Linked DNA regions of Homo sapiens: region 2 is linked to region 1. The links come from fine-mapping of genetic effects on gene expression. A gene starts in region 1. The other region holds a variant in brackets. All regions are shown on one strand. Distances are between the middles of the regions.

Region 1 (14,575 bases):
GAATCCTGGGCCGGCAGAATTGCAAGACGCATCCATGGGGCCGGAGTGGAGCCAGGAGGGGAAGCCAAGGAGGCGAATGCCTGAGGGGTCGGGCTGACTTCGGGGGGCTCTGGCTTTTACCGTGTGGGGTGGAAGTCGCTGGACGGTTAGGAGCAGGGGGCATATGATGTGGCTTCCCGGGCAGCTGTGTGGAGAAGGAACAGAGGGGTAAGGCGGGGACAGGGGACAGGCCAGGAGGCAACCGAGGAAACTGGTGAACGCGACAGTGACGGGCCAGCACACAGGCAGTGGGTGGCAGCTGGGATGTGGGGTGTGAGAGGACATGGAGGCAAGGATCCATGATCCAAAGGGGCCTTTGACACGGAACTGCAGCCTCTCCAGCTCAGACCCTGTGCTGCCATGAAAGGAACAGGGTGGCAGGCCCAGGGCAGTCTCCCGGCTTGGAGGGAAGGACTCCAGCCTCAGGGAGTCCGCTGTACTCCGCCTCACCCCTGTACCCCTGCTCTGTCCCTTCCACAGATCATTCTCAACTCTATGCACCGCTACCAGCCCCGTTTCCACGTGGTCTTCGTGGACCCACGCAAGGACAGTGAGCGCTATGCCCAGGAGAACTTCAAGTCCTTCATCTTCACAGAGACCCAGTTCACAGCAGTGACAGCCTATCAGAACCACAGGGTGGGTGAACCAGCTCGGGAGCACCCGCTGCAGGCCCATTTCACAGGGGTGGAGACTGAGCCCTGAGGCTTGCAGCCCTCACTGGCACAGACTACTGCCCTCCCAACTTGCCCTGAGTATCTGCCATCAGTCAAGGCCCTGCCCGCACTCCTATCAGCTCAGAGTTCCTGGGCCAAGAGGCCCAGGTGCCAGGGCCTCCTGACTGCCGGTTCCCGGGAGGACAAGGTGGCTGAGCCTGGCTCATGGCCAGCCCACAACTGCACTTTGTCTCCTGCAGATCACCCAGCTGAAAATCGCCAGCAACCCTTTTGCCAAAGGCTTTAGAGAGAGTGACCTGGACTCCTGGTACTGTCTGACCCTGACCCTAGCCCCTCACCCCCACCCCAGGCATATCCTAAGGCCTCAGTTCCTGACCCTTGTTTCAGGGTCACACCCTCTGACCCATCCTGGGGCCCCACCATCTGAAGCTGGCCATGATCCCTGGCCTGGGTTCTTCCCCTTGATCCCCTCCCCCCATTCTCGCTTGCTCTTTCAGGCCTGTGGCCCCACGGCCCCTGCTCAGTGTCCCAGCCCGGAGTCACAGCAGCCTCAGTCCCTGTGTGCTGAAGGGTGCCACAGACAGGGAGAAAGGTAAGGCCCCAGGCCTGCAGACATAGTGGGACTAAGGTGTACACAGTGGGCGGAAGGCAAAGGGACAGGACCTCCAGGAAGGGGCTTCAGCAGCTCAGCGAACCCACAGGGCCCCTGTGTGGACACACGGAGGGGGAAGCAGACATGCCTAAGACAATATGGGGCTCAGGGCAAAGAGCACAGGCAGGGGGTGCCAGGCAGGCTTCCTGCAGGAGGTGGCTCTCAAGCTGGGCCTTGGAGGACTGGGAAGGGTTTGGACAGAGGGAGAAGGTGAAGAAGAAATTCCAGGCAGAGGGAAAAGCAAAGGCGAAGGCTGAGAGGTAGGTAACTTGGGAAGGAGGAGCAGGAAGGGACCAGGGCAGGCCTGGGATGAGGGATGAGGATGCGATGGGAGGCCCAGAGTCCACTCATTTCCTCCCTCAGACCCCAACAAAGCTTCAGCTTCCACCTCCAAGACCCCTGCTTGGCTCCATCATCAGCTGCTGCCCCCACCTGAGGTCCTGCTGGCCCCGGCCACCTACAGGCCTGTCACGTATCAGAGCCTGTACTCTGGAGCCCCGAGCCACCTAGGGATCCCAAGGACCCGACCAGCACCATACCCCCTCCCCAACATCCGGGCTGATAGGGATCAAGGAGGCCTGCCTCTCCCAGCTGGGCTGGGGCTCCTGTCCCCCACTGTGGTGTGCCTGGGGCCTGGCCAGGACTCCCAGTGATGCCAGAAGCCCTGGGGGGAAGCCCTGCTACCCTGGACCTTACACCGGGTGTGGGAATCAGCCTCTGCCCCGCCCCCTCCAGCCCCATCTCTGTCTCAAGGAGAGCAGGGTAGGTGAAAGTCTAGAGAAAGAGGCTACCTGCCCAGGGTCACAGCAAGGCTGGGACCATGGCAAGCTTGGAACCAGGACTTCTATCTCCCAACCCCAGCAGCCTGAATACTGTGCCCTCTTGCTTTGGGGGTAACTCCCGAAAACCCTGCCTTACCTCTCCCTTCCCCCTAACATTAAACTATTTGGCATGAGTGGTCAGAGCACTTCTGTCGTCGTGGTCAGGGTGGGTGGGGGCCTCAGGAACTCCCAGACCCATCATAGTCCCCACATCAGCCCTGTAGGCATCCCGAAGCTCTGCCCAGTGCCGTCCGCATCCCTGGGAGCACACAGTAATATTAAAAGTGGTGACTCCAGCCCAGTGGCAGGGCTGCACTTGCCCAGATGAGGATCGAAACTGGCGCTCAGAGAGGCGCGGGACCTGCTCAACGTCACACAGCAGAGCATGGCGGACACCCGCCACCCCACGTTTAAATGCTGTGCGCAAGGCTGGGGTCATCTGGTCCCCAAGCCCAGGGTCTGGTGGAAGGGCGCAGAACCACGGTGGTCAGTGACCACAGGGGCCGAGGTAGGAAAGGGGGAGGGATTTGGGAATCCGGTCAAGACTCAAGGCAGGAAGGGAGAAGAGCTCTGGACGCTGGGACAAGGAGGTCAAAGGCCTGGGGCTGGAGTCCGACGGAGCCAGAGGGGAAGACAAGACTGGGGGCGGCGCGCGCCACCCAGCGGTATCGGGAGGGAGGACCGGAGGGAGGGCTGGGCCGGACGCTCCTCTCGCGCACCGATCGACCTCGGGTTCCTGGAGGGGCGTCCCCGTGGGATCCCGGCTCCGTACATCCTGGAGCCCCTAGGGGAGGGACGGACCAGTGGGGGCCGGCGGGGCCTCATCAGACACCCCAACGCCAGGACCCAACGGGACCGAGGACGGTCGCCGGGCGCTTCACGGTTCGCGTGGTTTCAGGATCTCGGAGAACACAACCGGCAGGTCCTGCAGCTCCGCGCCCATCTCCCTCCCCGCGGCCACACCCCCGGCCACGGCCCGGCCCTGCCGGAAGCACAGTCCTCCTGGCCACGCCCCCCAGTCCTTCGTAGCAAAAGCTCCGGTCCAGGCCCCGCCCCCAGCCCGCCCCAACCTCGATTGCCTACTAGGCCCCGCCGCCCTTTGGCAGTAACGTCCGAGTCCGGCTCCCGCGCAGGCCCCGCCCCGCCCCGCCCCGCCGCCCTCCGTCCCTCCCATCCGGGGGACTCAACGCGTCCCACCGAGGCCCCGCCTTCAAACAGGCCCCGCCCCCTAACGGACCCCGTCCCACCGAGGACCCGCCTTCAAACAGGCCCCGCCCCCGAACAGACCCAGTCCCACCGAGGCCCCGTCTCCGGGAAGGCCCCGCCCACGAACAGACCCACCCCACTGAGGCCCCCCGACGCCGCTGCCGCTCTGCAGCCCCCCAGGCGGGACGCGTCGCGCGGGCTGCCCCTTCTCCCTCTCAGCTTTCGGAGGGACCCGGGCTGAGCGCCCCGCCCCGCCTCGCCCCGCCTCTTCCCTCGCCCGATCCCGCGCCCTCAGTGTCCCGGCCGCGCAGGACTTGACATGCTGCCCGACTGCCTGTCGGCCGAGGGCGAGCTGCGCTGCCGCCGGCTGCTGGCAGGGGCCACGGCCCGGCTCCGCGCGCGGCCCGCGTCGGCCGCGGTGCTCGTGCCGCTCTGCTCAGTGCGTGGGGTCCCGGCGCTGCTGTACACGCTGCGGTCCAGCCGCCTGACCGGGAGGCACAAGGGCGACGTCAGGTACAGCGGCCGGGAACTCCTCGCCCTTTGCCGGAGGCTACAGGAGCCCGGGGCTGGCAGGGACCTCTGGCAGGGCACTTAGCCCCTTCGAGCCTCGGTTTCCGCCTCCGTAAAATGGGTCTGGGGAGAGTCCCTCCGCCCAAGGGCTGCAGCGAGAGGTCAGCGATCCGTGTCCGTCGGCCCCGGTGCACCTGCCGGGGCGCCACGTCCTCGCCGCGTGGGCCCCTCGTACGCGTCCTTGCGCGCACGCCTGGGCCGGGACACCCCTTTGAGCTGTTTCCCGCTTAGAGGGCGGACGCCGCCCCCTGCCGGCGACTACGGAGAGGTTCGGGCCCCGCCCGGCGGGAATTAAGAACATCCTGAGGACAATGTCAGTGTTGCTGGGGCCACCATAGGCCGAATTTGGGTATCTGAGCCCCAGGATCTTCTTGCCCCTGCTGCAGACCCTCTTATCCTGCGCTGTCCCGGGCCTCTCTTCCTTATCCCCATTGCTCAGGGAGGTAAACTGGCCTCCAGAGGTCGCATGGCTTGCCTGGGGCCTCCCAGTAAACTAGGGGCAGAGGCAGGCGACACTTCGGTGGGCCAGTGGCCCCCCCCGCACTGCCGATACCCCGACCTCTCCGTGGCCCCAAGAGTCCAAGGACCAGACTCCTTGTGTCTGTTTAGTTTCCCAGGCGGCAAGTGCGACCCGGCTGACCAAGATGTGGTGCACACGGCCCTGCGGGAAACCCGGGAGGAGCTGGGCCTGGCAGTGCCCGAGGAGCACGTGTGGGGCCTGCTGCGGCCTGTGTATGATCCGGTAAGCCACTTGGCTGAGGCCACCCCACCCCATTCACTCACTCTGTGCCTGCCCTGGAGCTGGGCTACCAGGGACCAGGAGAGTGGTCATGGACCCCCACGGGCACAAAGTGTGGAAGGGTGCCCCTAACCTGCCTGGTCACATGCACCACCCCACACACCCCCTCGGGAAGGGATTGGGGAGGCTCTGGTGTCCTGAGTAGAGGTGGCCCAGGGCGATGGGGTGGGCCAGCTCCACTCAGTTTGGTGGATTAGGGTCAGGGAAGCTTCATGGGGTAGGCAGGGATTGAACCCAGGCTTGAATGCCAAGTGGGAGATTGTCCTAAGCAGAGGGAACAGGTCTAGTGCATTTGAGGGGACCTGAGTCAGTCAGCATGGCTGGAGGACACAGGCAGGTGGACCCGAACATGACTACCAAAGGCCTATGCATGGCAAAGGGGTCTTCCTCTCACACTCCCCTCCCCAGCCTTCAAACCCAGCGAAGGCCATGCTTCCCTGACCACCTGCCCTCTTCCCCAGCAAAAGGCCACCGTGGTGCCAGTGCTTGCTGGTGTAGGCCCACTGGATCCCCAGAGCCTCAGGCCCAACTCGGAGGAGGTGAGCTGGGGGATATGAGGGGGTTGGGCTGTTCCAGTCCTCTGTCTACCCTCTCTGCCTCCTGCCTGCAGGTAGATGAGGTGTTTGCACTGCCGCTGGCCCACCTGCTGCAGACGCAGAATCAGGGCTATACCCACTTCTGCCGGGGTGGCCACTTCCGCTACACACTACCCGTCTTCCTGCATGGACCACACCGGGTCTGGGGCCTCACAGCTGTCATCACTGAGTTTGCCCTGCAGCTGCTGGCACCTGGTACCTACCAGCCCCGCCTGGCCGGCCTGACCTGCTCAGGGGCTGAGGGTCTGGCCCGCCCTAAGCAGCCCCTGGCTTCACCCTGTCAGGCCAGCTCCACTCCAGGACTGAATAAAGGTCTTTGACAGCTCTAGAGCTCTTGCTTCTGCTGTACTGGGGCCTTGACCTTGGGCAGACCACTCCAGGTCGCTGGCTGGGGCTCCTCCTTCCAGTCACGCCATGCCCCACAGCAATGGACACTTCCTGGGTGCCAAGTACTTGGAGTCAATTCATCTCACCCTCACAACAGCCCATAAGGCAGGGCCAACACTGTCTCTGGCTGGTGAGACTGCTTTCAGGGAGGAGAGACACCTTGCCTAAGGGCCCCACGCTGGGATTGGAACCAGAGCTCTCAGACTCCACAGCCCAGACTCTTAGGCACTGCACTGCCCTGTCTCAGCCTGCACCTCCTGTTCTCTCTGCTGTGCCTGGCTGACGCTGTGCTGGGCTCCGGGATCCCAGAGAGGAGTAAGGCGCACCCATGCCCCTGGGTGTTACTGCAGGAGTCTAACATGCAGAGCCCCTGTGTGTGCCAGCTGCTGTGTGGGGGCCACAGCTGTGGACCGGTCAGATGCTCACCTGCCGTCCAGAGGGGGTGCTCAGTCTAGGGGAGACCTCAGACCAGGTCACACAGATAATCATGTGGTTCCACATTAATTAATCACAGATAATAGTGGAATTATATAAGACATCAACTAGGTAGACCAGGGTTCTGTGAAAGAGCTGAGGGAGCGGGTGGTCTGAGCTTGCCGTGGAGGATGGCTGGATCCAGGGGCTCGGGCTCCCCTCTTGCTGTGCTTTGCGCTGTGCTGGCCTCAGCCCCAAGGAGGTTGTCTGTAGTGCAGAGCGTGAGAGGTTGAGGAGAGGGCAGCAGCATCCATCAACAGAAAACACGGCCGCTCCTTCCCGGCCAGTCTAACCTAGAATTGCACTTCACTGGCCTGCCTTGAGTCACATGTCCTTCCCTGAGCCTGTCACATGGCCGGTTGTGTGTCCGGAATTGGTGGGTTCTTGGTCTCACTGACTTCAAGAATGAAGCCATGGACCCTCACAGTGAGTGTTACAGCTCTTAAGGTGGTGCGTCTGGAGTTTGTTTCTTCTGATGTTCGGATGTGTTTGGAGTTTCTTCCTTCTGGTGAGTTCGTGGTCTCGCTGGCTCAGGAGTGAAGCTACAGACCTTTGTGGTGAGTGTTACAGCTCATAAAAGCAGTGTGGACCCAAAGAGTGAGCAGTAGCAAGATGTATTGCAAAGAGCGAAAGAACAAAGCTTCCACAGTGTGGAAGGGGACCTGAGCGGGTTGCCACTGCTGGCTCGGGCAGCCTGCTTTTATTCTCTTATCTGGCCCCACCCACATCCTGCTGATTGGTAGAGCCGAGTGGTTTGACAGGGCACTGATTGGTGCGTTTACAATCCCTGAGCTAGACACAAAGGTTCTCCACATCCCCACCAGGTTAGTTAGATACAGAGTGTTGACACAAAGGTTCTCCAAGGCCCCACCAGAGTAGCTAGATACAGAGTGTCCATTGGTGCATTCACAAACCCTGAGCTAGACACAGGGTGCTGATTGGTGTATTTACAATCCCTGAGCTAGACATAAAGGTTCTCCAAGGACCCATCAGAGTAGCTAGATACAGAGCTGAAGGGCTCCTCAAGTGCTGCCAAAGTGGGAGCCCAGGCAGAGGAGGTGCCGAGAGTGAGCGAGCGAGTGAGGGCTGTGAGGACTGCCAGCATGCTGTCTCCCCTCAATCAACAGGACACCCCAACTGCTGTTGGGAATTTGGCCGATGACTGCTCTAGCTACTTCCTGCTGGATAGGGGCGAAGAAGGGGCTTTGCAGTTGTAGTGTCCTTCAGAGGGGAACTCTCTAGGCCAGGGGAAGTGCCAGCTGGTCAGTCCAGGGGTCCTCGGTAGAAGTTGTTAGTTGAACTCATTTGGGGTTCCATTTGTAAGACCATCTGTAGCTTGATGGCCTCGATTCTAGAGGAAACAAATTTGACAAGAAGGTTAAAAATACAGGGCCCAAAGGCGAGTAACAGCAAGATGGCTGCCACGGGACCTAGAAAGGGGAGAAGCCATGTTGCCCAACTCCAGAGGTTGGTATAAGAATTTGAAAGGCGTCTGATTTCAGAAGCCTTTTCCTGTAAACGCTGGGTGGCATCTCATGCTATCCCTGACTGGTTAGTGTAAAAACAACACTCTTCCCCTAAGAAGGTGCAGAGTCCTCCTTTTTCAGCAGTGAGGAGATCTAGGCCTCAGCGGTTTTGGAGAGTCACTGCTGCCAAAGAGTCTATTTGGGATTGTAAAGTAAGGATAGATTTCATTATTTCTTCCAACTTTGAGAGGCAGATATGGGTTGAAGATCCACATAAGAGAATATGCCTTGGCTGGGTAGAGAGAAATTTACCCTGGCTTTTAAAGGAATAGGTACACTGTTTTTTCTTTACTACTTCCATCTCTCTCTTTGACTTCTTCTTTGTCTCTTCCTCTCTTTTTTACCCTCTCTTTGACTTTCTGTGTCTGTCCCTCTTTCTCTCTAACTTCTTGTCTCTTCCTCTCTGTCTCTTTCTTTGACTTCCTGTCTCTTTCCTTTCTGCTGCCTCTGCCAGCTGCTTATGCTGCTGTTCTCCCCTCTCCTTCCTATTCTGATGGCTTTGTCAGTGTAAGATTCCCACCTCTTTGTGTTTTTGCATTGCGTGCAATAACTCTATAATTTCCTTGTGGTATTTAATGGGGGTTCCTACAGAGGTTAGGAACTCCCTCTCTTTCCATATTGCAGCATGGGCATGTAGGATTAGATAAGCATACTTGCTATCTGTATACACATTTATTCTTTTTCCCTTTCCCAGTTCTAAGGCCCGGGTAAGTGCCACTAGTTCCGCTAACTGGGCACTGGTCCCTGGGGGAAGAGGCTTGCTTTCAAGTATGGTTACATCACTAACCTTCGTATCCCATTCTCCACAAATGAACTTCCATCAGTATATAGGTTAAGGTCAGGATTAGTTAAGGGGACTTCTAAGAGATCATCTCGGGCGGCATAAGTCTGGACTATAATTTGTTGGCAGTCATGCTTGATTGGTTCCCCATCCTCTGGGAGAAAAGTGGCAGGGTTGAGGGCCATGCATGTGCATATTTGAAGCACTGGTCCCTCAAGGAGTAGTGCCTGGTATCTAAGTAGGCAGTTGTCTGATAGCCATAAACTTCCTTTGGCACCTAGTATGCCATTTACATCATAAGTAGTCTAGACAGTGAGATCCTTTCCTTGTATTATTTTGATAGCCTCTGATGCTAAGACGGCCACTGCTGCAACTACCCTTAAACAGTGAGGCCAGCCTTTTGCTACTACATCAATTTCCTTACTTAGGTATGCCACTGGTTGTGGGGTTGTCCCATGAGTTTGAGTGAGGACTCCAAGAGCTATCCCGGCTCTCTCTCTGACATATAAAGAGAAATTCTGTCCTGTGGGAAGGCTTAAAGCTGGAGCTTGTACTAGAGCCTGCTTTAAGGTTTTGAAGGCTGTTTCTGCCTCTGGTTCCCACTCAACTAGATGAGTATTTGCCCTCTGGGTTTCCTTGATTAGAGGGGCCTGGCTGTCTCGCTGTATCCAGGGATCCATAGTCGGCAAAAGCTGGTAATTCCAAGGAACTCCCTCAACTGTTTTAATGTCTTAGGGCGAGGATAAGCCAGTATAGGCTGTATTCACTCCTTGCTGAGGGCCCTGGTCCCTTTGGCTAAGATTAGGCCTAGATATTTAACCTGCTGTAGGCAAAGCTGGGCCTTCGACATAGACACCTTGTACCCTTGATTAGCTAGAAAGTTCAAGAGATCTAGAGTAGCCTGCTGGCACAAGGCTTCCTAACTGGTAGCCAAAAGTAAATCATCCACATATTGAAGGACCAGAGTGCCTGGACTTGAGAAGTGGCCTAGATCTTTGGCTAGGGCCTGACCAAACAGATGAGGGCTATCCCTAAACCCTTGGGGCAAGACCATCCATGTAAGTTGGGATGTGTGGTTTGTGGGATCCTCAAAAGCAAAGAGGAACTGTGAATCAGAGTGCAGGGGAACACAGAAGAAGGCATCCTTGAGGTCCAGAACTGTGAACCATTCTGCTTCCTCTGGTATTTGAGAGAGCAGGGTATAGGGTTTGGGTACAACTGGATATAGTGAAATTACTGCCTCATTAATGAGTCTAAGATCTTGCACTAGTCTCGGTCTTTGTACTTCCAGAATTGGGGTGTTGCAGGGACTGCTGCATTTCCTTACTAAGCCTTGAGCTTTCAAATGTTTAACAATATTCTGTAATCCTTTATGAGCTTCAGGCCTTAAGGGATATTGCCTTTGATAAGGAAAAGTGGTGGGATCTTTTAACCTGATTTGGACTGGGTGGGCATTTTTTGCCCTTCCAAATTGTCCTTCCAATGCCCAGACTTCAGGGTTGATTCCCTCCTCAAGTAGGGGACAACAAATGGGTAACTTGTTCCCCATATTCATGTAGATAATAGCTCCAGCCTTGGCTAATATATCCCTCCCTAATAAGGGTGTGGGACTTTCAGGCATAACAAGAAAGGCATGTGAAAAGAGCAAAGTCTCCCAATTACAACTGAGGAGGTGGGAGAAATACCTGGTTACAGGCTGTCCCAGGATTCCTTGGATGGTAATGGACCTTGAGGAGAGTCGTCCAGGACAGGAGATTAACACTGAGAAGGCCGCGCCAGTGTCCAGGAGGAAGTCAATTTCCTGGCCCTCAATAGTTAAACATACCCGGGGCTCAGTGAGGGTGATGACATGAGCTGGCGCTTGCCCCAGGCACCCTCAGTCCTGTTGTTGGATCGTCTGGCTGGGGGCTTCTGACCCAGGGAACCTTCATCCTCTGGGGCAGTGCACCTTCCAGTGATTGCCTCAGCATAGTGGACACGGACGAGGGGGCAGCTTGTTTCTCATTGGACAATCTTTTTTAAAGTGTCCCAGTAAACCACACTGATAACAAGCCTTACCAGGTGATTGGCCTGCTTCATGTTCTGTCCTCTCTGAACCACCAAGGTTTGTTTGTCTGAGGGCCATGACTAAGGCTGCGGCCTTTCTCTGATCTCGCTTTTCCTTTTGGACCTGTTCCTCTTGGTCCCTATTATAGAACACCGAGGTTGCCAGGTTTAATAATGTCTCTAGATTTTGTTCAGGGCCCAGGGCTTGCTTTTGGAGCTTTCTCCTGATATCTGCAGCTGATTGGGTAATAAACTTATCTTTTAGAATCAATTGACCCTCAAGTGATTTGGGTGACAGGGGAGTATATTTTCTTAAGGCCTCTCATAGCCGCTCGAGGAAGGCAGAAGGATTTTCTTCCTTTCCCTGAGTTATGGTGGACATCACTGAATAATTCATGGGCTTTTTTCTAATTCTCCTTAGTCCTTCTAGAACACAGGTCAACAGATGTTTACAACTCCAGTCCCCATGATCTGAGTCAAGGTCCCAGTTGGGATCCATACTGGGGATGGCTTGCTGACCGGTAGGGAATTTGTCCCTTTCTACGGCTGTCATTCTATCATTTACTTGACTAAGATACCAGGTATCTCCAAACTCTCGGGCTGCAGCTAAAGCCGCATTCTTTTCATTAAAGGCCAGGGTTTGATCTAACAGTAGCATGACATCTCTCCAAGTGAGGTCAAAGGTTTGCCCTAGACCCTGTAGGACATCTATGTACCTATCAGGATCATCTGAAAACTTCCCCAGGTCTGCCTTGATCTGCTTTAAATCAGAGAGGGAGAAGGGGACATGTACCCGGGTTGGGCCAAATTCCCCTCCCCCTACAACTTGAAGGGGACACAACTGACAGCCCGGGGGGGTTTGTGGTCCTTTGGAGACCTCTTTGCTTATTTCCTTCTGGGCAGGGGAGATTAGAGGAGGATTATCATTAATAGGAAGGGGAGCTATAGGGAGGCTGGGATATGGGGGTAAGCCGAGAGGTCCTCCTTTGGGATGTAAATGGCAAGCTTTGCATAGTTGTGTATTCTCCCTCAATGAAAAGAAAGCTTGGGCATAAGGTATTTCACTCCATTTGCCTTCCCTCTTACAGAAAAGATCAAGCTGCAGGATGGTATTGTAATTTGTACTTCCCGCAGGTGGCCATTTTTCCCCATCAGAAAGAGAATATTGGGGCCAAGCCGCAGTGCAGAAAAAAATGAGCCGCCTCTTTTTCAGGGTTTGTGGGTCAAATTGGTCCCAATGGCTTAGGATGCATTTCAAGGGTGAGCCTGTTGATGCCTGAGTGTTTCCCATCTGAAAGACAAAACCACCCACGGTTTTGGTTTGTTTTGTTTCTCCCCCTGCCCAAGAACCCGCAACAGTCCCTGGACCCTGTTGATCGGAATAGTTGCGCTCACTGACGCAGCAGCAGAAACAACCCCTGCCCAAGAACCCGCAACGGTCCCTGGACCCTGCTGATCGGAATAGTTGCGCTTACCGACGCGGCAGCAGAAACACTAGTTTTCCTCCCAGACCACATGGAGGACCGAGGAAGGTCGGATTTAGTGGTCCTTGCCGACGCATTCTCGAAAACCTGCACCCTTGCCTGTCCTCCTAGACCACAAGGAGGACCGACCGAGAAAAATCGGATTTAGTGGCCCTTACCGACGCATTCTCAAAAACCTGTTAGAGTCCTAAGCATTCTCCTGTTAGTATTGGGACTTTACCCCTGTCCTATAAAGATGTTATGCCCCAAAAATGAAGTGGAGGGCCATACCCTGAAGGAGGGAAGGGGTCTCCAGGGTTGGAAGAGTGACATCTTTTGTCCTAACTTATATGAATAGGAAGGATACAATTTCTGAGGCTCCCCATATCCTAGCTTCAGGAATAGCTTTTGTTAGGCCTGTCAGTGTGAGGAGGGATCCTAAAATTCCAGGTAGTCCCCACTACGATGGGGCTTTGGGCAAAAATTATGTCTTTCTGATTGGTGAGCCCAGGTGCCTAAAGAAGGTAACAGAGTCCTGGAGTTTATACTAGAAATCATTCTTATCGGAGAAACTAGAAAAGCACCAGAGACAGGTAGCAATTTTTAGAAGTGGGTCTAACCTCAGAGAAGGGAGGCAAGAGGAAGTTTGTCTGGCAGGCATTAGGACCCAGGGGGCTAGGGTCAGGATAGATAGGATAGATGGGCGGGTCTCGCTTGGGCGACATGCTTTTGAGAGTTCTGCTCATGGCCGCGGGGTCAACCATCATGTTGTCAGGACCCCAGAGCTGCATGGCCTTCCTCTCTGTCGACCCTCGGCTCAGCCCAGAAGTACAGGAAAAGCGGAAGCTGGTTCTAGGCAAACCAACGGTCCCAACTCCGAAGAGTCGGGGGTTGTTAGAGAGCTCTTTCCCAGAAAGTCTGACACCCATGTCTTTAGTCCAGCGGCCACGCTAGTCACTTTTAACTGGCCGACAGGTGCCTGGTATTTAGCCCCCGAATTCTAAGGAAAGATAGGACAGAATAGCAAGCGAAAGGGGTCCAATGGTACTCACTGCTTGGCGATAGGCAATGGTCTCACCGCTCGGCAATAGGTGATGGTCTCACTGCTCAGCGATTGTCTCACCGCTTGGCAATAGGCGAAAGTCCCTTCATGGTCGCCAAAATGTGTCCGGAATTGGTGGGTTCTTGGTCTCTCACTGACTTCAAGAATGAAGCCGTGGACCCTCGCGGTGAGTGTTACAGCTCTTAAGGTGGCGCATCTGGAGTTTGTTCCTTCTAATGTTCAGATGTGTTTGGAGTTTCTTCCTTCTGGTGGGTTCGTGGTCTCGCTGGCTTAGGAGTGAAACTGCAGACCTTCGCGGTGAGTGTTACAGCTCTTAAGGCGGCGCGCCTGGAGTTGTTCATTGCGCGCCTGGAGTTGTTCGTTCCTCCCAGTGGGCTTGTGGTCTCGCTGGCTTCAGGAGTGAAGCTGCAGACCTTTGCGGTGAGTGTTATAGCTCATAAAAGCAGTGTGGACCCAAAGAGTGAACAGTAGCAAGATTTATTGCAAAGAGTGAAAGAACAAAGCTTCCACAGTGTGGAAGGGGACCCAAGCGGGTTGCCACTGCTGGCTTGGGCAGCCTGCTTTTATTCTCTTATCTGGCCCCACCCACGTCCTGCTGATTGGTAGAGACAAGTGGTTTGTTTTGACAGGGCGCTGATTGGTGCGTTTACAATCCCTGAGCTAGACACAAAGGTTCTCCAAGTCCCCACCAGATTAGTTAGATACAGAGTGTCGACACAACGGTTCTCCAAGTCCCCACCAGGGTAGCTAGATACAGAGTGTCCGTTGGTGCATTCACAAACCCTGAGCTAGACACAGGGTGCTGATTGGTGTATTTACAAACCTTGAGTTAGATACAGAGTGCCGATTGGTGTATTTACAATCCCTGAGCTAGACATAAAGGTTCTCCAAGGCCCCACCAGAGTAGCTAGATACAGATTGTCCACTGGTGCATTCACAAACCCTGAGCTAGACACAGGGTGCTGATTGGTGTATTTACAATCCCTGAGCTAGATACAAAGGTTCCCCATATCCTCACCAGACTCAGGAGCTCAGCTGGCTTCACCCAGTGGATCCTGCACCGGTGCTGCAGATGGAGCTGCCTGCCAGTCCCGCGCCATGCACCCGCACTCCTCACCCCTTGGGTGGTCGATGGGACTGGGCGCCATGGAGCAGGGGGCGGCGCTCATCGGGGAGGCTCGGGCCACACAGGAGCCCACGGAGGGGGTGGGAGGCTCAGGCATGGCGGGCTGCAGGTCCTGAGCCCTGCCCCGCAGGAAGGCAGCTAAGGCCCGGCGAGAAATCAAGCGCAGCACCGGTGGGCTGGCACTGCTGGGGGACCCAGTACACCCTCCACAGCCGCTGGCCCGGGTGCTAAGCCCCTCATTGCCCGGGGCCGGCAGGGCCGGCTGGCTGCGGCGAGTGCGGGGCCCGCCAAGCCCACGCCCACCCGGAACTCCAGCTGGCCCGCAAGCGCCACGCGCAGCCCCGGTTCCCGG
Region 2 (12,827 bases), 58 kb after region 1:
ATGTGTGCCTGTAGTCTCAGCTACTCGGGAGGCTGAGGTAGGAGGATCCCTTGAGCTCAGGAGGCGGAGGCTACCGTAAGCCAAGATCACACCACTGCACTCCAGCCTGGGTGACAGAGCCAGACTCTGTCTCTTAAAAAAAAAAAAAATGGAGGGGTGTATATAAAAATCACAACCGGCCAGACGCGGTGGCTCATGTCTGTAATCCCAGCACTTTGGGAGGCTGAGGCAGGCAGATCACCTGAGGTCAGGAATTCGAGATCAGCCTGGCCAACATGGTGAAACCCCATCTCTACTAAAAGTGCAAAAATTAGCCAGGTGTCGTGGTGGACACCTGTAGTCCCCGCTACTCAGGAGGCTGAGGCAGGAGAATCGCTTGAACCAGGGAAGCAGAGGTGGCAGTGAGCTGAGATCGTACCACTGCACTGCACTCCAGCCTGGGCGACAGAGCAAAACTCTACCTCAAAAACAAAAAAAGAATCACAACCAAAGAATTTGTATGTCAGAATGACAACAAAAACCTATTCTATCAGGGAATCAACTAAAAACATCAGGAAGAAAATTAAAACCCAGTCCTTCTTTAGAGACTTGTGGCCAGGAAATAATTCAAGATTTAGTCAAAATTGTAGGAAAACAATAAAATCTCAAAAACAATGGTCAGGGCTGGAATCTAATAACAGATGTGCCACAGTTTGCTTTTTAAAGATTGATTCTCTCTCACTCTCCAGTTCTGCATTTCTATCAAAAGAAATCTTAGTAGGGCTGATTTTGTTGCCAAATAAGTTTTAGTATTATACTTGGCCTGATTATTTGTAAAAAGTGCAATGAGAATAGTGAATGGCCATACAGGCTCTTTTAAATTGGCTTTGCTGGAGCTTTTTCATGAAGAATCTCAGGTTGGACTTTTGAAAGCCTCCCCAGGCTTTGAAGCCAACCCATGGATTCATGATCAGCCTGTGCCTGTAGTACCTGTATGAATTGGGTGAATTCCTCTCTTCTCAAGGTCCCAAATATCTTGAGGTTCCTGGGCTTGTCAGAAAGTGACATTCTTTCCTTACCACAATGTAGGGTCCAGCCCTACAGGGCCTATGGGTTTTTCTCTTCGTGTGCGGAGACGAGAGATTGTAGAAATAAAGACACAAGACAAGGAGATAGAAGAAAAGACAGCTGGGCCTGGGGGACCACTACCACCAAGACGCGAAGGCCCAAATGCCTGGCCGCGCTGATAATTATTGTATACAAGGCAAGAGGGCAGGGTAAGGAGCGTGAGTCATCTCCAATGTAAAGTCCAATGTAAGGGTAAGGTCACGCGAGTCATGTGTCCACCGAACGGGGCCATTCCCTGTTTGGTAGCCGAGGCGGAGAGAGAGAGGGGACAGCTTACGTCATTATTTCTTCTATGCATTTCTCGGAAAGATCAAAGACTTTAATACTTTCACTAATTCTGCTACTGCTATCTAGAAGGCGGGGCCAGGTGCACAGAGCGGAACATGAAAGTGGACCAGGATCGTGACCACTGAAGCACAGCATCACAGGGAGACATTTAGGCCTCCGGATGGCTGCGGGCAGGCCTGGCTGATGGCAGGCCTTCCACAGGAGGTGGTGAAGCAGAGTGTTCTCTAACTCCCTGGGGGAAAGGGAGACTCCCTTTCCCAGTCTGCTAAGTAACAGGTGCCTTCCCAGGCACTGGCGTTACTGCTAGACCAAGGAGCCCTCTAGTGGCCCTTGTGCGGGCTTGACAGAGGGCTCACATTCTTGCCTTCTGGTCACTTCTCACCGTGTCCCTTCAGCTCCTAATTCTGTATGGCCTGGTTTTCCTTAGGTAATAAGTATAGAACAGGTAATAATTATAGAACAGAGATTAATATAATAAAGAGTAATGCTACAAACTAATGATTGATAATATTCATATATAATCATGTCTATATTCTATTTCTAGTATAACTATTCTTATTCTAATTATTTTCTTTATTATGCTGGAAGAGCTCATGCCTTCCGTCTCTTGCCTCGGCACGTGGGTGGCTTGCCGCCCACACCACAAGGTCAGGAAGCTTGTAAGGGAACCATAAAAACCAGGTACCAGACCAATCTCTCCAAGGGACTTTTTACTGGCTCTATAAAATCAGCCTCAACTCCTCAAAACAGTCTGGCTGTATCTGAAAATATGCCAGTACAGTCAAAGCCTTGGTAAAATTACGAGTGTCTTCAGTGTGCCCAGTTACAAAAGAAAACATAGTCTTACTGAACTTATGCAAATAACTGTATTGCAATAAAATAAGAATCGTCACAAATAGTGTCCAAATTTTGGAGAAATCAGGTAGAGAGAAAGGTAAATATTTCAATTTTGCTCACAAAAGTATACTTTGCCCAATGGCTGTGAGTTATAAATAGCTCAAAAGAAAAAGTTTTCTTGTTTCTAGAAAACAAAATATAAAAAGAATCAGCAACGTTTCAAACAAACAAAAGTCATAAAAATCATTTTAGTCCCCTATCGGTTCTGTCCTACGTAATTAATTCTCGTTCTGCTTGATGTTGTGTTCACAATCTTCATGAATGCATCAGTTCTTTATTAGGGTTCTGGAAGTTTTTACTTAGTTCAGTGGTATGATCTCTAAAGTTACCAGAGCAGGGTGCGGTAGCTCGTGACTGTGGTCCCAGTGTTACCAGATGGAAAGTCTTGACTGTGAGTTGTCCAGGTTCTTGGCGTGTTGAACAAAGAACTGAACAAAATGCACAAAGCAACAGAAGATGAAAGCATAGATGTATTAAAGCAAAAGTACGCTCCACAGAGTGGGAGCAGGCTCAAGCAGCCCCAATTACAATATGCTTCAGGGTTTTTATTAAGCCAAAAGAATTTGGTAACACCATAGGTGCCCTGCAGAGGCTTCCAATTGGTTACACCCTGTAAGCGATTGGCCCGTGACCAATCAGAGGCTGAAGTGCAGACCCTGCCTGTGGTCAATCGGAGGCAGAAGTGGAGACTCCTGTCTTGTTATCACAGGAGTGAGGACGTGGCCTGCGTGCTGCCTAATCTTGCCTAGAACTGGCTGCCCCTGCTGTTTTTTGCTTATGCCTTAACCCTTTGTTACCCTAATTCCCTGTTCTCCTATCTTACCAGCACTTTGGAAGGACAAGGCAAAAGGATCACCTGAGGTCAGGAGTTTGAGACCAGCCTGAGTGACACAGAAAGACTGTACAAAAAATTTAAAAATTAGCCAAGCGTGATGGTGCATGCCTGTAGTCCCAGCTACTCGGGAGGCTAGGGTAGGAGGATTGCTGGAGCCCAGGAGGTTGAGGCTGCAGTGAGACATGTTCACACCACTGCAGTCCAGCCTGGGTGACAGAGTGAGACCCTGTCTCAAAAAACATACACAAGCAAACAAATATTTAATTAATAAATAAATTTACTGGAAACCTATACTCAAGAGTACTTTTCAGCATCGTTTTCTGTGAATTTCCTTAAGAAGCAAATTTTGGACTGTAGCTGATTATAAACTAATTTTTGAGAATCAAAGTAAAACAATAATTGTCTGTGGATGACAAAAAACTTAGACTAGCCATGGTTAAAGATGCAACTGACAAGGAAACTTGGTTATTTCTGTGACATACAAAAATTTAACAACATTATCACTGAAAACATATACCGAGACATGTCATTTTAAGAATCTCATACAATTTTGGAACACATATTAATAACACATTTATAGAAATATAACTCAAAGAAAGTTAAACACCAGCTGGGCGTGGTGGCTTATGCCTGTAATCCCAGCACTTTGGGAGGCCAAGGCGAGTGGATCACGAGGTCTGGTGTTCGAGACCAGCCTGATTAACATGGCAAAACCCCATCTCTACTAAAAATACAAAAATTAGCTGGGTGTGATGGGGTGCGCCTGTAATCCAGCTACTCAGAAGGCTGAGGCAGGAGAATTGCTTGAACCTGGGAGGTGGAGGTTGCAGTGAGCCGAGATTGTGCCACTGCACTCCAGTCTGGGCGACAGAACGAGACTCCATCTCAAAAAAAAGAAAGTTAAACACCATTTCTTATTTGACAATGCTCCGTATATGATTTTAACATACCAAATAAGCCCAGTATTTCTCTCTTGGACTTCCAAGGGCTCCTATTTCTTGTGTCCAAGATAGTTCAGATAAAAAAAGACTTAATTAACTTTGGGAAATATGTCAAAAATTTTTCTAAATTTGAAATTTAAATTAGGTGCCCAGGTGTGGTGGCTCACCCCTGTAATCCCTGCACCTTGGGAGGCTGAGGCGGGTGGATCACTTGAGGTCAGGAGTTCAAAACCAGCCTGGCCAACATGGTGAAACCCCGCCTCTACCAAAAATACAAAAATTAGCCAGCCATGTTGGTGTGCACCTGTAGTCCCAGCTACCAAGAGGCTGAAACAGGAGAATCATTTGAACCCAGGAGGCAGAAGTAGCAGTGAGCTGAGATCACGCCACTGCACTCCAGCCTGGGCAACAGAGTGAAACAACTGTCTCAAAAAAAACAAAAATTTTGAAATTTAATTTTTGGAAGTATGTCAAATATTAAAGGTTCAAAACACTTGATATTAAAATAAGTAAGGTTTGGCCGGGCACAGTGGCTCACGCCTGTAATCCCAGCATTTTGGGAGGCCGAGGCGGGCGGATCACGACGTCTGGAGATCGAGACCATCCTGGCTAACACGGTGAAACCCCATCTCTACTAAAAATACAAAAAAATTAGCCGGGCGTGGTGGCGGGCGCCTGTAGTCCCAGCTACTCAGGAGGCTGAGGCAGGAGAATGGCGTGAATCTGGGAGGTGGAGCTTGTGGTGAGC[C/T]GAGATCGCGCCACTGCACTCCAGCCTGGGCAACAAGAGCAAGACTCCATCTCAAAAAAAAATTAAATAAATAAATAAAATAAGTAAGGTTTAAAACACATAATCAAAATAGGATACAGGTTACTATAAAATAAAAGTCATTAATTTAGGCCAGGTGCAGTAGCTCATGCCTGTGATTCTAGCACTTTGGGAGGCAAGGCAGAAGGATCACTTGAGCCTAGGAGTTTGAGAACAGCCTGGGCAACATAGTGTGACTCTGATTCTATAAAAACAAAAAAGTCAAATATTAGCCAGCCTTGCTAATATTTAAAATTTTTTTTAAATAGAGACAGGGTCACACTATGTTGCCCAGGCTAATATTATTAGCTAATCGGGAGGCTGAGGCAGAAGGATCCCTGGAGCCCAGGAGCTTGAGGCTGCAGTGAGCTATGATCTTGCCACTGCACTCCAGCCTGGTGACAAAGTGAGCCCCCATCTCTAAGAAAAAATATTTTTTTTTTTGAGACGGAGTCTTACTCTGTCACCCAGGATAGAGTGCAGTGGTGCGATCTTGGCTCACTGCAACCTCCACCTCCCGGGTTCAAGTGATTCTCCTGCCTCAGCTTGCCTGTAATTCCTGAGTAGCTGGGATTACAGGCATGCACCACCATGCCCAGCTAATTTTTGTGGAGACCAGGTTTCACCATGTTGGTCAGGCTGGTCTTGAACTCCTGACCTCAAGTGATCCACCTGCCTCGTCCTCCCAAAGTTCTGGGATTACAGGCGTGAGCCACTATGCCTGGCCTCTAAGAAAATTTTTTTAAAAAGTTATTAATTTAGCCAAAATGATAACTCAAAGATTTCAAAAAGCAAAAAACTTTACTCTTGGATTAGAGAGGAGACTCAGTTTCCTAAACAATTTAAATACCCAATAAAGATAGCCTGAGGCAAACTCTCCCACTCATTTTTTTTTTTTTTTGCAGTTTATTCAAAAGGTAAACAAATCTTTCACTATCTCTTTTTTTTTTTTTTTGAGATGGATTCTTGCTCTGTCAGCCAAGATAGAGTGCAGTGGTGTGATCCCGGCTCACTGCAACATCCGCCTCCCAGGTTCAAGAGATTCTCCTGCCTCAGCCTCCCGAGTAACTGGGATTACAGGTACCCGCCACCACGCCCGGCTAATTTTTGTATTTTTAGTAGAGATGGGGTTTCACCATGTTAGTCATGCTGGTCTCGAGCTCCTGACCTCGTGATCCGCCAGCCTCGGCCTCCCTAAGTGCTGGGATTATAGGCATGAGCCACCGCGCCCGGCCTAGTATCTCTTATTAATACAACGCTAAATTCTTGTTCAAAGGAGAAAACCAAATTTTACCTTATACTAATGTATTATCAATATGAAAGCCAATTTTAATAAAATATTACAAACAAATTCAACCAATCTCAGTCAGCTTTGACCACACAAGGTAAGATTTCCATAAATCTTTCTTTACCTCTTGGGATTTTCTATTAAAGAGCAGGTCACTGCTGAGCGAAAACCCTGTTGTTCCGACACAGGCTCAGCCTCTGGCCTTGCATCAGTGCTTTTGATATTAATGCTCGCTTTTTAGAAAAACTTATAAATAATTCCCTTCCAATTTTAACCAACTTGATCACACACAAAATTTCTCTCATGAGATTAATCTCCTGTAAATCTACGACTTGCTTAAACCTTCAGTTTTATCCTATACTCCCTTTTTTATGTTAGCATTCAATCTTAGAACAAAAATTTACCTTACTTTCCCCCTTGTCAGTTTTTGGTTTTTCTGTTTGAGATGGAGTCTCGCTGTGTCTCCCAGGCTGGAGTGCAGTGGCACAATCTCGGCTCACGGCAACCTCCACCTCCTGGGTTCAAGCGATTCTCATGCCTCCACCTCCTGAGTAGCTGGGATTACAGGTGTGTGCCACCATGCCCAGCTCATTTTTGTATTTTTAGTAGAGACAGTGTTTCACCATGTTTGCCAGGCTGGTCTCGAACTCCTGACCTCAAGTGACCCACTCGCTTTGGCCTCCCAAAGTGCTGGGATTACAAGCGTGAGCCACCATGCTCGACCTATTTTCCCCCTTGTCAGTTTAACCACACAGAGTTTTCTCATGCAAAAGAAAAGCATATTCCCTCTTTTCAACTTATTTACCAAAAACACATTTTTTTTTCTAGACCAGTTCTCACTCTGTCACCCAGGCTGGAGTGCAGTGACATGATCATAGCTCACTGCAGCCTCAAACTCCTGGGCTCAAGCAATCCTCCTGCCTCAGCCTTCCAACCAAAAACATGTCTTACTTTCTGTATACACTCTATAGATAGAATTGTTTCTGTTATAGTTAGTATTTTTACTTACATATATTAACTAAAATTTTAAGTCTTTTTTTTTTAATGGAGTCTCGCTTTGTCACCAGACTGGAGTGCAGTGGTGCAACCTCCATTCACTGCAACCTCTGCCTCCCAGGTTCAAGCAATTCCCCTGCCTCAGCCTCCCAAGTAGCTGGGACTACAGGCATGCGCCACCATGCCCGGCTAATTTTTTTGCGTATTTTAGTAGAGATGGGGTTTCACCATGTTGGCCAGGATGGTCTCGATCTCCTGACCTCGTGATCCACCCACCTCGGCCTCCCAAAGTGCTGGGATTACAGACGTGAGCCACTGCACCCTGCCAAATTTTAACTCTTAGTAATCCTAATTTGCAGTGAAAAACCTAGGAAGTATGTCATTTTAAACTGTTTCTTTCTGTTTGTTTGTTTTTGAGACGGAGTCTTGCTCTGTCGCCCAGGCTGGAGTGCAATGGCGTGATCTCAGCTCACCACAACCTCTGCCTCCCAGGTTCAAGCGATTCTCCTGACTCAGCCTCCTGACTAGCTGGGATTACAGGCGCCCACCACCATGCCTGGCTAATTTTTGTATGTTTTTAGTAGAGACGGGGTTTCACCATGTTGGCCAGGCTGGTCTCGAACTCCTGATCCGAGTGATCCACCCGCCTCGGCCTCCCAAAATGCTAGGATTACAGGTGTGAGCCACCGTGCCCGGCCTTAAACTGTTTTATACCGGTATTTGTAGATGAAAACCATTTCATAATATTTTTAGAAAAATGTTTTATTGGTTTTTTGTTTATTAACAGATCTAAATATATTTAGTTTTTCTATACCATATAAACAACTCAGACATTTTATGATGATGAATTACTTAATATGTCGTTAACATAACGGCATTAAGTTTCTGCAAAAGATGTTTGAAACTATGAAAAGTTCCTTTTTAAACTTTTACCCCATTGACATTTATTTAATTTATTCATTCTCAACAATTATGCTTGAATATTTCAATAAACAAAGCTCACCATCCTCCTAAGTTCTTTCTTTCTTAATCATTTTTATAGCCTTCAAATGTTAGGCAGTCATCACCTAAGAGCTCTGTTGAATGTTGGCATTCAACTTTCGAACATAAATTTACTTTACTTTCCCCCTTGTCAGTTTTTGGTTTTTTGTTTGAGAAGGAGTCTCGCTCCATCTCCCAGGCTGGAGTGCAGTGGCGCAATCTCAGCTTACATACATGGGTATTTTGCTGATCAGAAGACAGAGCTGGTTTTTTGGTTTGTTTTGTTTTTTGTTTTCTTATTCTCTCTGAGAGCTGTTTTTATTAAGCCAACTATCTTATTATAGCTGCAAATGGGTTCCAATCCACATTTCTGTCCAGCCACATTCCAGGATCTCACCTTTTTGAGACAGGATCTTTTTGTGTCATCCAGGCTGGAGTGCAGTGGCATGATCATGGCTCACTGAAGCCTCAGTCTCCTGGGCTCAAGCTATCCTCCTACCTCAGCCTCCTGAGTAACTGGAATTACAGGTGCACACCACTGTGCCTGGCTAATTTTTTTTTTTTTTTTTTGGTAGGGACACAATCTCGCTATGTTGCCCAGACTGGTCTTAAACTCCTGGGTTCAAGTGATCCTCTAGCCTCGGCCCCCTAAAGTCCTGGGTTTATAGGCATGAGCCACCATGCCCAGCCAAGCCAACAATATTGAACTAGTCTTATTTACCAAAAATGTACCCAAGTCATGTGAACTAAAAGATTTTTGAGTTAGTTTCTGTTTTCCTGATGAAACATTTGATTAAAACACTTTCTTTTACCGTAAGCTAATTAATTGGAGCTCTTTCATATATTTTGGCGGTGAAATATCACAAACACATGACATATAAAAATATATAGACGTGGTCGGGTGCGGTGGCTCATGCCTGTAATTCCAGCACTTTGCGAGGCCGAGGCGGGCTGATCACAAGGTCAGGAGTTCGAGACCAGCCTGGCCAATATGGTGAAACACCATCTCTACTAAAAATACAAAAATTAGCCAGGCGTGGTGGCACACATATGTAGTCCCAGCTACTCAGGAGGCTGAGGCAGAAGAATCAATTCAACCCGGGAGGCAGAGGTTGCAGTGAGCCGAGATCGCTCCAGCCTGGACGACAGAGTGAGACTCTGTCTCAAAAAGAAAAATCTATATATCTATATATAGATATAGAGGTGTAAAGACACACAGAAGAAGCAGAGTTTTTGATTTTGGTTTTGGGGTTTTTTGTTTTTTGTTTTCGGTTTTTTGTTTGTTTGTTTGTTTGTTTGTTTGTTTGTTTTTGAGATAGAGTCTTGCTCTGTCACCCAGGCTAGAGTGTAGTGGTGCAATCTTGGCTCACTGCAACCTCTGCCTCCCCAGGGTTCAAGTAATTCTCCTGCCTCAGCCTCCTGAGTAACTGGGATTACAGGCGTGCACCACCGTGCCTGGCTAATTGTTTTTTTTTGTTGTTGTTGTTGTTGTTTTGAGATGGAGGTTTGCTCTTATTGCCCAGGCTGGAGTGCAATGGCATGATCTTGCCTCACCGCAACCTCCACATCCCAGGTTCAAGTGATTCTCCTGCCTCAGCCTCCCAAGTATCTGGGATTACAGGCACCCACCATCATGCCTGGATAATTTTTGTATTTTTAGTAGAGACGGGGTTTCACCATGTTGGCCAGGCTGGTTTCGAACTCCTGACCTCAGATGATCCATCTGCCTTGGCCTCCCAAAATGCTGGGATCACAGGCATGAGCCACCGTGCCCGGTCTTAGCTTGTTTCTTGATCACATAACTGACTTCAGGGTGAAGCTTATTAAAGAGCTTCACCCTGAAGCAAAGAAAGCATTCTCCATGCCTGGACTCAGCATGGATAGCTCTGAAAAAGAAGAAAGGCTACTTTACCTGAAGGCCTATCATTTATGAACATTTAATTCACCTTAAAAAAAAAAAGTTCCTTTTCAAGTGACTCACCAAAACCAGTAACCCTTAACCAAGGTTATGACTTAGCCAAGAACACACAAGACATCTCCAAAGAAGTGCAAAGTGATCCTCACGAGATCCAGAACCACCCTAAAGACAGCTCAAAGAAGGAAAAGTCTCACTGTTACTGGAAAGGGGTCCCGATCGAGACCCAGGAGAGGGTTCTTGGATCTCACGCAGGAAATAATTCAGGGTGAGTCCATAGAGTAAAGTGAAAGCAAATTTGTTAAAAAAGTAAAGGAATAAAAGAATGGCTACTCCATAGACAGAGCAGCCCCGAGAGCTGCTAGTTGCCCATTTTTATGGTTATTTCTTGATGATATGCTAAACAAGGGGTGGATTATTCATGCCTCCTCTTTTTAGACCATATGGGGTAACTTCCTGACGTTGCCATGGCATTTATAAACTGTCACGGTGCTGATGGGAGTGTAGCAGTGAGGACGACCAGAGGTCACTCTCGCCGCCATCTTCGTTTTGGTGGGGTTTGGCCGGCTTCTTTACTGCAAACTGTTTTATCAGCAAGGTCTTTATGACCTGTATCTTGTGCCAACCTCCTATCTCATCCTGTGACTCAGAATTCCGTAACCGTCTGGGAATGCAGCCCAGTAGGTCATTCAAGATGGAATTGCTCTGGTTCAAATGCCTCTGACATCACAAGCTGCAAATGGAGCGTGACCCACATTTCTGTCCAGCCATATTCCAGGATGTCACCTTCTCAGCCGACCACCTATGCATAAAGGCTCAAAATCCCCATATGCCCCACAGATGGGAAAAAACAGGAAATCGGAAGCTGCCCATGGGAAGGACGAGGACCAATAACAAATGGCTACCCAAAAGGTGAAGAGTCACTCCAATAATTTAAAACAAACAAGACTGGTTCCCTGACCAGGAGTCCAACCCGGGCTGCCGCTGTGAATGCCCGGAATCATAGCCACCAGATCCCATTGCTTTGTGAGGCCTGCAGCAGAAGCAAAGCAGGCAGTTTGAACATGTAAAGGATTTTAACTTGTTTCAGATCTGATCTCAACTAGAACATGGCTTAGCCAATTCCCTGGAAGTTAACATTTCAAATACCTGGTAAGATTTACATCTCCAAGGGACTGTGAAGTCCAGCAGGGCTTTTAAAGGGTATTGTCCGATATTGGGTCAATAAATCATCAGTGTCATTCATTCATCCTTGTTTAGAGAAAAAAAAATGTTGGATCTGTATTTTATAATGTTAGTAAGTCATTCTCATTGTGAAGTGGTTCCATTTGTTTCCTTTGTTCCAAATTTAGACACATTCCCCCCTTTGGAGAGAAGGAAATGTGTGTATTGTGGAATTCCAAAAATCTCTGCCTGAGAGATGTATGGGAGCCGAGGGAACTAGCAGAGAGAGGTGAGTTCAGATCGCAGGGGAGAGGACGAAGGGGCAGCTGGAGGAGAAAGAGAAAAAGCCTCCGAAGTCTTTCTTAATTTAGAACTAGTTTCAAATATCCTTTTGTTTACCTCTTGAATGGAGGCAATTTTTTCTCTCAGAATGTCTTTTAGAAGCTTCTAGGTGCTATTGGAAGTAAGTCGCTCATTCCATTTGTTTAGTTCTTTTTTTTGGAGACAGAGTCTCGTGCTGGAGTACAGTGGTGTGATCTTGGCTCACTGCAACCTCTGCCTCGCGGGTTCAAGCAATTCTCCTGCCTCAGCTTCCTAAGTAGCTGGGATTACAGGCGACTGCCACCACGCCCGGCTAATTTTTGTATTTTTAGTAGAGATGGGGTTTTGCCATGTTGGCCAGGCTGGCCTCAAACTCCTGACCTTAAGTGATCCGCCCGCCTCTGCCTCCCAAAGTGCTGGGATTACAGGCGTGAGCCACCACGCCCGGCCCCATTTGTCTGCTCCTAAAACCAGCTTTTTCCAGTTGTGCATGCAGATGAACTCATGTAGGCATTTCAAAGTCCTCCATTTTGGCCATTATAAGCTGGGTCATCACAAGTTATGCATGACCAGTTTTCTAAATATTTGCATGAAGAGGCGCGCCACAGTGTTAAACACAAATCCAGCCTATGTTTTCATGTGGATCTTGCCTTCAGGAGGAACACTCAGTTTTAGACCATTGAACCGAGCCTCAGAACCTGGCCAGTTTGAAAGATTACAGATTTGACACTGAAGCCACAAAGATTTCACTTTCTCTTTTCGGAGAGAAACTATTTTCTCCCTGATCAAAATTTGAAATGAGAAAAAAGGTTGCAAATTCTAATGAGTAAGACAAACAAAATCTTAACCTCGGAGAAAACTGAAAATTATGAATATGTGATCAGCAGAGTCTCTAGAGAATAACAGATGAAACTCCCACCTCTCAGTAGAGTTTTGACTCCAACCCCACCGAGTAAAGAATATGTGTAGCTTGAAGCAAGTCTGAATTCACAACCAAACCTGGGAGGAATTCGGCCCTGAGAGGGGCCTTATTAGAAATCCTTGCTGGCTTGGGCAAAGTAAAGTGAGTAAGTTGCTCATGCTGGTACCAAGGCTCTGGTTGCTGGGGAAGCGGTGGGATCGCTGGAGGCTCCCTTCAGGTTCCATCTGGGGTGCAAAATGTCGACTTTAAATAACAAGATTCAGGCCAGCACAATGGCTCACGCCTGTAATCCCAGCACTTTGGGAGGCCAGGGCAGGTGGATCACAAGGTCAGAAGTTCAAGACCAGCCTGGCCAAGATGATGAAAC

Which allele goes with the higher level. Positions count from the first base shown, and alleles are read on the strand shown. Sizes are in standard deviations (SD) of each study's normalised expression.
For the expression in prefrontal cortex of the gene that starts at base 3,686 in region 1, allele C in region 2 goes with a lower level than allele T (large effect, 1.4 SD a copy in GTEx).

Evidence for each region. PIP is the estimated chance that this variant, and not a neighbour inherited with it, causes the effect. A credible set is the group of variants that fine-mapping cannot tell apart.
Region 2: its variant is the best candidate, but not a certain one, in a credible set for the expression of NUDT8 in prefrontal cortex (GTEx, PIP 0.89).

Annotation. Positions count from the first base shown.
Region 1 is chr11:67,619,048-67,633,622 of GRCh38, reverse strand. NUDT8 (nudix hydrolase 8) reads left to right here and starts at 3,686. Exons shown (of 4, transcript NM_001243750.2): 1 at 3,686-3,905; 2 at 4,572-4,704; 3 at 5,223-5,300; 4 at 5,372-5,685. The coding sequence starts at 3,712. The coding sequence ends at 5,677. It overlaps TBX10 (T-box transcription factor 10), which reads left to right. Exons shown (of 8, transcript NM_005995.5): 5 at 520-675; 6 at 953-1,020; 7 at 1,211-1,305; 8 at 1,729-2,320. The coding sequence ends at 2,018. LOC124902696 (a long non-coding RNA gene) reads right to left here and starts at 13,684. Exons shown (of 2, transcript XR_007062741.1): 1 at 13,087-13,684; 2 at 6,230-7,569. RefSeq lists enhancers at 1-69, 70-599, 1,128-1,657, 7,481-8,010, 11,267-11,848 and 2 more and silencers at 2,764-2,933, 3,054-3,843, 4,134-4,283, 4,851-5,145.
Region 2 is chr11:67,561,743-67,574,569 of GRCh38, reverse strand. No RefSeq gene overlaps it. Among named protein-coding and RNA genes, the nearest start is that of GSTP1, 16 kb to the left of the region's middle. RefSeq lists an enhancer at 10,387-11,586. The variant C/T (reference allele first, on the strand shown) is at 4,817.